Linked DNA regions of Homo sapiens. The protein of the gene in region 2 purifies or fractionates together with the protein of the main gene of each other region. This does not show direct contact. Each region holds a gene or a part of one and is shown on either strand. Other genes may lie near its edges.

The links.
Region 1: the proteins of OAT (region 2) and AADAT fractionate together in Homo sapiens (co-fractionation; one large-scale study listed by BioGRID). This does not show direct contact.
Region 3: the proteins of OAT (region 2) and DDX19A fractionate together in Homo sapiens (co-fractionation; one large-scale study listed by BioGRID). This does not show direct contact.
Region 4: the proteins of OAT (region 2) and UAP1L1 fractionate together in Homo sapiens (co-fractionation; one large-scale study listed by BioGRID). This does not show direct contact.

Annotation. Positions count from the first base shown.
Region 1 is NC_000004.12:170,059,722-170,062,839, reverse strand, and holds the end of AADAT (kynurenine/alpha-aminoadipate aminotransferase, mitochondrial), read left to right. Parts: exon of another isoform or gene 1-110; intron 111-846; coding exon 847-948; intron 949-1,870; coding exon 1,871-1,912; 3' UTR 1,913-2,618; downstream 2,619-3,118. UniProt on the Homo sapiens protein: Transaminase with broad substrate specificity. Has transaminase activity towards aminoadipate, kynurenine, methionine and glutamate. Shows activity also towards tryptophan, aspartate and hydroxykynurenine.
Region 2 is NC_000010.11:124,396,803-124,399,363, reverse strand, and holds the end of OAT (ornithine aminotransferase, mitochondrial isoform 1 precursor), read left to right. Parts: intron 1-1,261; coding exon 1,262-1,422; 3' UTR 1,423-2,061; downstream 2,062-2,561. UniProt on the Homo sapiens protein: Catalyzes the reversible interconversion of L-ornithine and 2-oxoglutarate to L-glutamate semialdehyde and L-glutamate.
Region 3 is NC_000016.10:70,363,903-70,367,402, forward strand, and holds part of DDX19A (ATP-dependent RNA helicase DDX19A), read left to right. Parts: intron 1-640; coding exon 641-743; intron 744-1,114; coding exon 1,115-1,229; intron 1,230-2,030; exon of another isoform or gene 2,031-2,109; coding exon of another isoform or gene 2,110-2,182; coding exon 2,183-2,360; intron 2,361-2,721; coding exon 2,722-2,959; intron 2,960-3,500. UniProt on the Homo sapiens protein: ATP-dependent RNA helicase involved in mRNA export from the nucleus.
Region 4 is NC_000009.12:137,080,517-137,082,777, forward strand, and holds part of UAP1L1 (UDP-N-acetylhexosamine pyrophosphorylase-like protein 1), read left to right. Parts: intron 1-172; coding exon 173-358; intron 359-1,481; coding exon 1,482-1,548; coding exon of another isoform or gene 1,549-1,656; exon of another isoform or gene 1,657-2,114; intron 2,115-2,120; coding exon 2,121-2,213; 3' UTR 2,214-2,261.

The DNA.
Region 1 (3,118 bases), on a different chromosome or scaffold from region 2:
CAACACACAGATTCCAAGATGGCTACAAAATGGAAAGAGCATGGCAGATCACACATGGGATGATTTGTATGGGCCAACCTTAGACATCTCTTACCTGGCTTCTACTCACATCCATTGATTAGGATTCGCTCTCATGGTCACACACAGCTAGAAAGAGGCCGGGGAATAGGGTACATGTGATGCCCAGGAAGAAGAGGAAATGGAGCTTACAGTCAGTGAGCTGTCTGCCTGTGTGGCCATCAAGAACAGCAGCTGTTCCGACCACCCCATCTTGACACGCTTATTTAATACTTTTATTTCTTCATTTTATACATTACATTTTTTACCTCCTTTCAGTTCTTTGAATGCAGCAATTTTCTTCCCATCTCAGGGCCTTTACTCTGTGTATCTTTGCCCTCAAATACTGCTCCCTGCTTTTTGCCTGATGTAATTTATCTTTCAGGCCCCAGCTTAAAAGTAACTTTCAGACTTATTAACTTAAAAATTACTTTTCTAGTTAGATTAAACATTTGTTTGTATTTATTACCATTTATCTTTCTTTAGGAAGCTGTCCTTTCTACATTAAAGCTGAAATTTGAGTGTTCTCAGTTTTCGTGTATTCCTGATGTTTTGAGAAGAGATAGCATTTGCCATATTGATTCTGAACATTTTTTCAGTTTCTATGTGTTTAGTTTTGTTCATTGTATGACATACGCAATTTTTATATAAATTAGTATTTTTTCTTGTGATTTCTTTAACTGCTTTTAAACTTAAAACATCCTTCCCTACTCTGAGATTAGGCTTAACTATATTATCTTTGAGTTTTTCTTTAGTGGTACATTACTTATCTTCCACAAACTCTCTTAGGTATTAATGCTCCCTGGAAATGCTTTCTACGTCGATAGCTCAGCTCCTAGCCCTTACTTGAGAGCATCCTTCTCTTCAGCTTCTCCAGAACAGATGGATGTGGTGAGTGTAGTATTCTCCTCAGAGTAACACTAGCTAGCAGTTCTGTTTTTTTAATGCACGTGTATACTTTGTGAATTAGAATATTACTTAATATCTGTTTGGGTTTCTAAAATTCAGATATTTGTTGACCAGTCATGAACTATCATTAAAAGACCCATTTTACTTTGTTGCTAGACTTCTATAGAAATGAGACTAAATTGGAGTTAAAATTTATTGTCTGCATGAATAATGTATCACAACCTACTGAGCTGCGTAAATTGTCATGTTATGAGGAAAACTTCTTTCCTTCCTTTATTGAATTAACATGAGCCAGAAGTACAAATTCATGATGGCTGTCACTTTCTCTGAAGAAAAAAGTATCAGCAAGGGTCAAATAGAATAATATTCTGAATCACAATCTAGCTTTAACCAAAATAAGCTGTGTATGTGGAAATCAAACAGAAGAGCTATAAATTGAACAGTGCCATTAACCTTGAGAAGAGTTTATATTTATCCTTGGAAAGGGACATTTTTGGCATGTTCTTTATTTACTTGCTTTCTCATGTCATTAAATGTGTTTTTCATAAGGTCTCTCTGTTTTAATGTATTAGTGGAGTTGGGCAATTGAATCTATATAAAATGCAGGTGAGAGATTATGTAAAATCTAAAATAATCCATGTTATGGATAAAATGGAAAATGATCTTGAAGGCCACGAGAACAACAACAACAACAAAATCCTGAAAATCTGATGTACTTCAGTCTTCATATTTTAATAGAAATTGATGGCATCCTGCACAGATAAAGTTGATGTTAAACTTGACTTTTCAATGCCTTCTCTCAACCTTAGACAGATACTCTTTGTTTGGATTTTTAAAGTTATTACAGAGTTTTCCAATATAGTATCCTAATTTAATTAATTCTAATTTTTTTTTTCTGTTTTAGGCCTTCCAGGTATTAGCACAACTTATAAAAGAATCTTTATGAAGAAATTAAACTAGGTTGGGCATGGTGGCTCACACCTATAATCCCAGCACTTTGGGAGGCAGAGGAGGGAGGATCACTTGAACCCAGGAATTCAAGGCTGCAGTAAGCTACGATCACACCACTGCACTCTGGCCTGCATGCACTCTGGCCTGCATGGCAGAACAAGACCCTGTCTCTAAAAAAAGAGAAAGAAATCAAACTAATCATGCTGCTCATGGATTTTTCCAATAAATTTCTTGTTTTGGCAGGAAGAAATGAACACTGGTATTAGACTTAAAGATTAAATTTCCTCAAACATGTCCTATCTGTAGTAGTTCAACTAGACACCTTTTAAAGTGCCTCTAAATTCATCAGATGGCCAAACTGTATTTATAATCCACTTAGGCATTTTGAAAAACTTTCAACCTGTAAAAAGTTACTTTTATCTTGGATTTATTATGAAGAACTTTGTAGTTGCTTTGTAATTTCCCATAAATTGTCTTTGAAACTAACATTTTACACTGAATTATTTTGAGATTTTAAAGAAGTAATTAAGTGCAAAATGGTATATAATGTGTACTTTTTCTACTTTTAGGAAAATTTAATGAGAGCTTATTGCAAAAATTGTTATAATTTGGTCATTATAAGTGACTTTTAGTAAAAGTACCATAAACCTTATGTTATGCCACAGAAATTCCTTTAAAATAAAATTCTTAAACTAAACATACCTAAAGGCATCAGACCCATTAATTCTAAGTAAGGAGGGGAGATCATGGACTTAGGAAAATTTACTACATTGTATTTTCATAATACTACATAATTTACAAAAATACATTCTTATCAATTATGTAATTTAAATCTACTACAACCCTTTAAGGTATTAGGAAATATTTTTTAACTATTTTTTTCTCACCTTTTAAAATCTTTATTAAAGTAAGATATGCTCATTTTAGAATTTTCAAACAATCCAGAATGTATAAGGAATAAAGTAAAAGCCACTCACTGTCTCACCCCTGGTGATAACTGCTATAAGCATTTAGCATGCTTCCTTTGCAATGTTCTCTGCATACACATGTAATATCTAGAATAGGATCTCATTGTGACAGTGTATCATAAATACCCTGTATTCATTTTCTATTCATTTTCTGTTTAACAAATTGACGAAGTGTCCTATGACCCAATAATTGTAAAGTTGTAAGTATCTTTGCGGAATTAGGAAGTTTATGT
Region 2 (2,561 bases):
AAAAAAAAAAAAAAAAAAAAAAAAAGAATCACCTGGGGAGCTTCTTAAAAAAATGAGTCAAAGCCTGGCCTTACCCCAGGGATTCTGATTTGACGGATCTGGGACGGGGCACAGGCATTAGCAATAGCCTTTAAGGTGATTCTGATGTGCAGCCAGGTTGAGAATCGCTGCTATAATATGTTGAGCTCAGGAAGCGAGTCCCTTTTTGGAATGTGTAGTGTTCACTGGGTTTTGAGTATTGCCCATTTTATGTCAGTTAATCATCTGTATCATACCCAAGTTCTTTTTTTTCTTTTTTAGAATTTTATTTATTTTATTTATTTTATTTTTTGAGACAGTGCCTTGCTCTGTTGGGCTGGAGTGTCTGTCGCCAGGCTGGAGTACAGTGGCATGATCTTGGCTCACTGCGACCTCCACTTCCTGGGTTCAAGCGATTCTCCTGCCTCAGCCTCCTGAGTAGCTGGGACTACAGGCATGTGCCACACCACGACAGGCTAATTTTTGTATTTTTATTAGAGATGGGGTTTCACCATGTTGGCCAGGATGGTCTCGATCTCTTGACCTCATGATCTGCCCACCTCGGCCTCCCAAAGTGCTGGGATTACAGGTGTGAGCCACTGCATCCAGCCTATACCCAAGTTCTTTTGCATTAGTTCCTTGTGTGATTAATACAGCAGCCTTAGCACATTTTTTTTTTTTTTTTTGGCTTGGTCTTTTTCATTTATGAAAAACTATGATATGTCTAATCATATCATTCAAACCTAGTTATGTGCTTGCTGAAAAGTGAAGAGTAACTTCATTTTTAGGAGTAAAAACAAAGCAAGCTTGCAGCTCCAAGCTTCCCTTTCTTTTTTTTTTGAGACGGTGTCTTGCTCTGTCACCAGGCTGGAGTGCAGTGGCGCGATCTCCGCTCACTGCAGCCTCCGCCTCCTGGTTCAAGCGATTCTCCTGCCTCAGTCTCCCGAGTAGCTGGGACTACAGGTGCGCACCATGATGCCCAGCTAATTTTTGTATTTTTAGTAGAGACGGGTTTCATAATGTTGGCCAGGATGGTTTCAATCTCTTGACCTCGTGATCCACCCACCTCGGCCTCCCAAAGTGCTGGGATTACAGGCATAAGCCACCGCTCCCAGCCCAAGCTTCCCTTAGTTGAGCAAGTTCTGTTAATTTTGTTTTGCCAGGCTGCACTTTGCCCATACATACGGCAAGGGATGTTTAAACGTTTATCTTTGAGCATGTACGTTTTACTATTTTTCTTTAGATTGGGATGCTTGGAAGGTGTGTCTACGACTTCGAGATAATGGACTTCTGGCCAAGCCAACCCATGGCGACATTATCAGGTTTGCGCCTCCGCTGGTGATCAAGGAGGATGAGCTTCGAGAGTCCATTGAAATTATTAACAAGACCATCTTGTCTTTCTGAGGGTAGCCAGCTGTTTTCAGTGGTCCCTGGGAGCCAGCTGGAGACAGGTGGTCCTGTAAAAGCTTTATTCCTAATGTGGGCACATTCCACTCCCATGAGTCTTCAAAAACTTTTTTTTTGAATATATTTTTTTCAGTTGATACATAATAGAACAACGTTTATGAACCTGCCGTTTGCTTTGTAACGTAACTAAATAATGTAATGGCATCTATATTCAGTTGAAGTGTTTTGATGTGCATGTGTACTTCCTAAGGTGAAATGCATCTATATACAGACAGCCTCTAAATCAAGTCCTTCAGTATAATTGATATATGTTTTTATAATTTCCTCACTGGTATAAGTGTTTCATATTTGAAAAAGTTATCTCTGGGTATTGCATAAAAGGCTTCATCTTATAAAGTGAAATCATTGTTATTGAATTTTAGGAAGGATTAATGGTTAAGTGTATATAAAATACTAATATTAAGTAAACTTCATATTGGCCAACACCAGGGTTGTATTCTATGGATGTCATTATTTTGAATTAAGAATTAGTGTTTAACATTCCTAAATTGTTTTGAGTGCTTGATTATAATTTGTAAAAAATGTTTATTTTCAATACTTCTTTAAATTTAAAATAAAGCTTATATTTCAAATGTCTGTTTTGTGATGATTATTCACCTTAAAAGGAAGAAGCTGAGGCAAAATTAATATAGAATGTTTAGGTGGGCCAAGGTTGGGGACTGCAGCTCGGGACACACTTCCAGGTTGCCCTGGAGAGTGCTCCAGAGAACACTTCTTAAAGAAAAAAGGATAGATCAGCTGCTCTTATACCCTCTACTGACACAAGGTGAAGGGGTGATTACAAAAGTTGTTTATCAGGAATTCTCATTGGCTTACAGAACTAACCTTGGTTAGTGATTGGCTATATGCTGTTGAACTACAGGGTATATGGCATTTGATAGATACTTGGCTTCAAGAGGTAATTATGTAGCTTGGGAGAGAGTGACCTGACTATGATTTCATTCTATTGCCTCTCTGGGCCTGATAATTTAGTTTTTATTTTTTGAGATGGAGTCTCTCTCTGTCGCCCAGGCTGCAGTGCAGTGGCACGATCTCAGCTCACTGCAACCTCCACCTCCTGGGCTCACATGATTCTC
Region 3 (3,500 bases), on a different chromosome or scaffold from region 2:
CTAATTTTTTATATTTTTAGTAGAGACGGGGTTTCATTGTGTTAGCCAGGGTGGTCTCGATCTCCTGATCTTGTGATCCGCCTGCCTCGGCCTCCCAAAGTGCTGGGATGACAGGCGTAAGCCATATTTATCTTTTTTAATGACAACCATGCCACCTATTCCCATGATGCTGGGTCCCATAAAATGGAATGTAAAAGTTCCCTCTAAAACATCCACCTGACTTAGCATCTTGTCCATAAAACTGGGGAAAGGCACACACAGAAGGAACCAAATTCTGGGAATGCATCATGGCTCAGCCAAAAATATTGCTGGGGTCTTGTCTGGGCACAGATCTTACTCTGCACACTTGATTTCCCTGTGCCCCTTGGGGTGCAAAACTGGGGTCCTTTAGCTGTGCTAGAGGCTAGAATGAGAATTTCTTGGTGTGAGCCCATTTAAAATAATCATTTATTTTACAATTTAAGCAGCTTTTTAACAGCGTATAAAAAAATGTATGAAAGTAATTTGTGCTCAATGGAGAAAACCTGGGTAATATAGAGAAGCACGAAGGGGGAAATATGCCTTTCATTCAGAAAGAACATTTTGACATGTTACTGAGTTTCACCAATTTAAGTTTCATTTCTGTTCTTCCTTGATCCAGCCCACAGAATCTGATTGCCCAGTCTCAGTCTGGCACTGGTAAAACAGCTGCCTTTGTCTTAGCCATGCTCAGCCGAGTGGAGCCATCAGACAGATACCCCCAGGTGAGGGCTTGCGGGGCTGGGTGTCCTAGGTTGCCTGCCCTGGGGAGCGCAGTGCCATCTGGTGAGGAGTAACGAGAGGTCTGAAGCTTCTGACACCTTAGGCTGTGGCTCAGGCAGAGCAAGTTCCTACACCAGGCCCTGACCTGGGAGAATGTGCTTGAAAGCAGCAGCCTTAGACCATGGCTTGCAAAGGCCTCTGCCAAGCCAGGGCTACCTGCTGCAGGCTTCAGTCTATGGCTGAAAGGTGGGCCTGGATGGGAGGACATGCTTCCCTGTGCTATTCAAGTGCTAATAACATCAGCATACTGGGTGCCTTCAGGTCTGTTACCAAATGGCTCTCCTAAACTCATCCTTTATGATTTTTCTGTCAGTGTCTGTGCCTCTCCCCAACATATGAGCTGGCGCTTCAAACAGGAAAAGTGATTGAGCAGATGGGCAAATTTTACCCAGAACTGAAGCTTGCCTATGCCGTTCGAGGCAATAAATGTGAGTACGGCAGGCGACAACTGAACAGTGAGCAGGGTAGGGGGTTGGGCGTTTGAATTTTGAAGATGCGATGACCGTATTCAACTTTCTAATTCAGTCTGACCCTGGAGCCTAACTGTGTTGCTCTATTTGAATCTATTTGAATACCTGCTAATTTGTTAACAGTCTTTTTCAGTCTTAAAATAAGATTTTCGGTTGATTAAAAAAAAAAATCCACGCATGGCTCACAGAGTTCTTAATATCTAGAGTTCTTCGCTCAGAAGGTAGAGTTTTGAATTTAGCGTCCAGAGTTCTGGGACCTGCTACCAAAGAGGGATTAACAGGACTGAGGATGGAAGGTTGGGGTCAGCTCCCTTTCTTTAAAAGTAAGCAAAACCAGGTACAGTGGCTCACACCTGCAATCCCAGCCCTTTGGGAGGCCAGGGTGGGAGGACTGCTTGAGCACATGGTTCGAGACCAGCCTGGGCAACATAGTAAGACAAAAAATAAAAAAAAAAAAATAGCCAAGCGTGGAAGTGCCAGCTTGTAGTCCCAGCTACTTGGGAGGCTGAGGCAGGAGGATCGCTTGAACCTGTGTGGTCAAAGCTGCAGTGAGCCATGACTGTGTCACCGCACTCTAGTCTGGGCAACAGAGTGAGACCCTGTCTCAAAATAAATAAATAAATAAACATAAAAAGAGTTGGATGATGTTGGATTATAGGAGGAAGAAGAAGGGAACTGATGCTTATTGAAGGATTGCTGTGTGGGATTTGATCCTGACCACAGTGCACTGAGATAGGTGTCATTCTGCCCACTTCACAGCAGAAGAGACCAAGACTGAGGGGAACACTCATGTGTGTTTTGAAATCTGGAAATAACTTGTTCTCCTAGTCCTAGAAGGATGGGCAGGGCTTTGATTTCCAGAGCTGGCTTTGCCTTTGAAATACCTATGAAAATCACCTGGGTCTCCACAGTGGAAAGAGGCCAGAAGATCAGTGAGCAGATTGTCATTGGCACCCCTGGGACCGTGCTGGACTGGTGCTCCAAGCTCAAGTTCATTGATCCCAAGAAAATCAAGGTGTTTGTTCTGGATGAGGCTGATGTCATGATAGCCACTCAGGGCCACCAAGATCAGAGCATCCGCATCCAGAGGTAGGGATCTCGAGGGTGGGGGACTCCTCAGACTCCCCATCTGCAGTGTCTTCTCCCTTCACTTCAGACGCCTCCTCTGGCTTCTGCCTGGGTCTTGGCTCTCGTACTCTCAGCAGCATTTGTTTGACGGGCCATTTCCATGTCAGCGCTGATCACAGTCCCTCCCAACCTGGGTTGAGAAAGGAGACCTAGGGACTCTTCCCCAACCCTTGTCCCCATCCCAGGCCTGCTGCTCCTCCTCCCCAAGATGCTCCTCCCCCATCAGCCTTCCTGGGCATCTAGACCCTCCCAGCTGGGGAGGCTGTGCTTCCGTTGCTTCCCAGGGCCACCTGGGGCCATCTACCCGGGCCTTCCCTTGCAGGATGCTGCCCAGGAACTGCCAGATGCTGCTTTTCTCCGCCACCTTTGAAGACTCTGTGTGGAAGTTTGCCCAGAAAGTGGTCCCAGACCCAAATGTTATCAAACTGAAGCGTGAGGAAGAGACCCTGGATACCATCAAGCAGTACTATGTCCTGTGCAGCAGCAGAGACGAGAAGTTCCAGGCCTTGTGTAACCTCTACGGGGCCATCACCATTGCTCAAGCCATGATCTTCTGCCATGTGAGTAGCAGCGGCAGTGGCAGGCCTGGCCCCTCCCTCTCAGCCAGCTCCCCACAGGGCTCAGGAGGACTGGATGCCCCTGAGCGCCATGGAAAGAAGGGAAGTGCTTTTTGAAGATGTAAGAGACAGGCTCTCCTTTAGTGGGGGTAATGGTAGTATCCCAAGGGATACATAGCCTAAAGATAGAGCCCCTGAACTTTATGTCTTATTTGTGGATGATGTATTGTTGCACAACCCAAGAGAATCAACTCATATTTGTAAGAAAAATAAAAAATTCAACAAGATGGCCGGGTACGGTGGCTCATGCCTGTAATCCCAGCATTTTGGGAGGCCGAGATGGGTGGATCACGAGGTCAGGAGATCGAGACCATCCTGACTAACACGGTGAAACCCCATCTCTACTAAAAGTACAAAAAATTAGCGCGGCGTGGTGGCGGGCGCTTGTAATCCCAGCTACTCGGGAGGCTGAGGCAGGAGAATGGTGTGAACCCGGGAGGCAGAGCTTGCAGTGAGCCGAGATCACACCACGGCACTCCAGCCT
Region 4 (2,261 bases), on a different chromosome or scaffold from region 2:
ATCCCTGGCGTCTCAGGAGCAAAAACACTCAGTACCTGCGGGGGCTCCTCCCTAGACTTGCTGCCCATGGGACCAGACCTTCACTCTGTCACTGGAAACCTGGCCCAGCTCTCACCTGCCCGGATCAGGGCCTCTGTGCTGGGACGTGGGTGACTAGCCCTTTCCCCACCAGGAACTTTGCTGCCTTGGAAGTGCTGCGGGAGGAGGAATTTTCCCCACTGAAGAACGCAGAGCCAGCCGACAGGGACAGTCCCCGCACCGCTCGCCAGGCCCTGCTCACCCAGCACTACCGGTGGGCTCTGCGGGCCGGGGCCCGCTTCCTGGATGCCCATGGGGCCTGGCTCCCAGAGCTGCCCAGGTGAGTGTGGCCCTGGGGTAGCTACAGCCAGAAGGGGAGGGCTGTCAGGACCCAATCTTCAGCTCCAGAGCCCTGTTGGCTCTGCGACAGCCATGCTGGGGAGGGGTCTTCCTTCCCGGCACCACCGCAGGTGCAGGTAGCCTTGTGCCCAGCCAGCTCCAGGTCACACGGTGACTGTCGGCACAGCCTCCTGGCCCGACCCTTCAAGTTGTGCTCAGTGCACTGAGGGAGGCAGGGGCTCCCCAACTCCCTCCCCAACTTATCCACAAGGTTTTGGTTTGTTTACAAAGGCATACTTAGATTTGGCTTTTATTTATTTATTTTTATTTTTATTTACTTTTTTGAGATGGAGTCTCGCTCTGTCGCCCAGGCTGTAGTGCAGTGGTGGGATCTCGGCTCGCTGCAAGCTCCACCCTCCCCCGGTTTCCGCCATTCTCCTGCCTCAGCCTCCTGAGTAGCTGGGACTACAGGCGCCCGCCACCACGCCCGGCTCATTTTTTTGTATTTTTTTTTTTTTTTAGTAGAGACAGGGTTTCACCGTGTTAGCCAGGATGGTCTCAAACTCCTGACCTGTGATCTGCCCGCCTCGGCCTCGCAAAGTGCTGGGATTACAGGCGTGAGCCACCTCACCCGGCTATTTTTTTATTTTTATTTTTCTTATTTGTATACATTTGTGGGGTGTGTGTGCAACTTTGGTCAGTCAGGTCAGGGCTTTTAGGGGATCCATCACCCAACCAACGTTGTTCCCATTTATTCACAGGCTTTGAAACTGAGCCCCGGGCATGAATTTAGAAAGTAGCAGGACAGTTTGATTTCAGGGCTGGGAAAGAAAAGGACGTTTGGCTTCCATCTCCCTGATTTTCTAGGGCCACCCCTAAATCTAGCTGCCTAGGCTCTGCGTGGGAGGCCTGTGGGGGTGCTTTCTACCCCAAATCAGGTCCTGTCACTTGGCAGTGGGATGTGTGCTCAGGGTTTGGGGTGTCCAGAGGAAGATGAGCTTGCTGAGACAGGAGCTGTGGGGAGCCAGGTGTGTAGAGCTCAGTCTCCTATCGGGACTGGGGGTGCTGGGGGAGGGCTCTGGGCAGGTGCTGCAAGGAGATATTGACAAGTGGACTTTCCCTAGCTTGCCCCCAAATGGAGACCCTCCGGCCATCTGTGAGATATCGCCCTTGGTGTCTTACTCTGGAGAGGTGAGAGCTGCCCATCCCTATCTGGGGCTTTTCTGGTGTCAGGTTTGGAATACCATCTGGGGAGAGGTGGCTGCTCGGGTGGAGACGGCACAGCTCTACCTCGGTTAACCAATGGGGTCGGTGGTTTAAATTTGCAGAAGACTTTCCAAGATATGGGTTGGGGTGGGGTGAGGCATCCAGAGGCCTTTGCAGGTCCTGGGAGGGCATGGGGATGAGACAGCCCAGGTCTGAGCCCAGTGTGGGGCCAGTCAGGCCTTGGTGGGGGCCTTGCGGAGGGAGGACACCGGCCTCTGCTACCTCCCTGACCTCGGCTGCCCTTGCCCCTTTCTCTGGTCAGGTCAGACCTGTGCGTGACAGGAGGGTCCCCTGCTGGCCTAGGGTCTTGAGTGTGGTCTTGGGTGGCCTTGCAGTGTGTGTCTGCTCCTGGCCCTGGAAGCCTTTCTGTCCCCACCCCTCCCTGACTCCAGGCAGACCTGGGATCGCACCTGGGGACTGTGGCTCTTGGTGTGGCCAGAGGGGCTGTGACCCGCCAAAAGGTGGGTACTTGGCCATTGTCCCCTGCTCGTCTCCAGGGTTTAGAAGTGTACCTGCAAGGCCGGGAGTTCCAGTCCCCGCTCATCCTGGATGAAGACCAGGCCAGGGAGCCGCAGCTGCAGGAGTCCTGACCCGCCCAGACTGTCCCCAGACTCCCCCGAGACCTGCCAGCCCCGGCA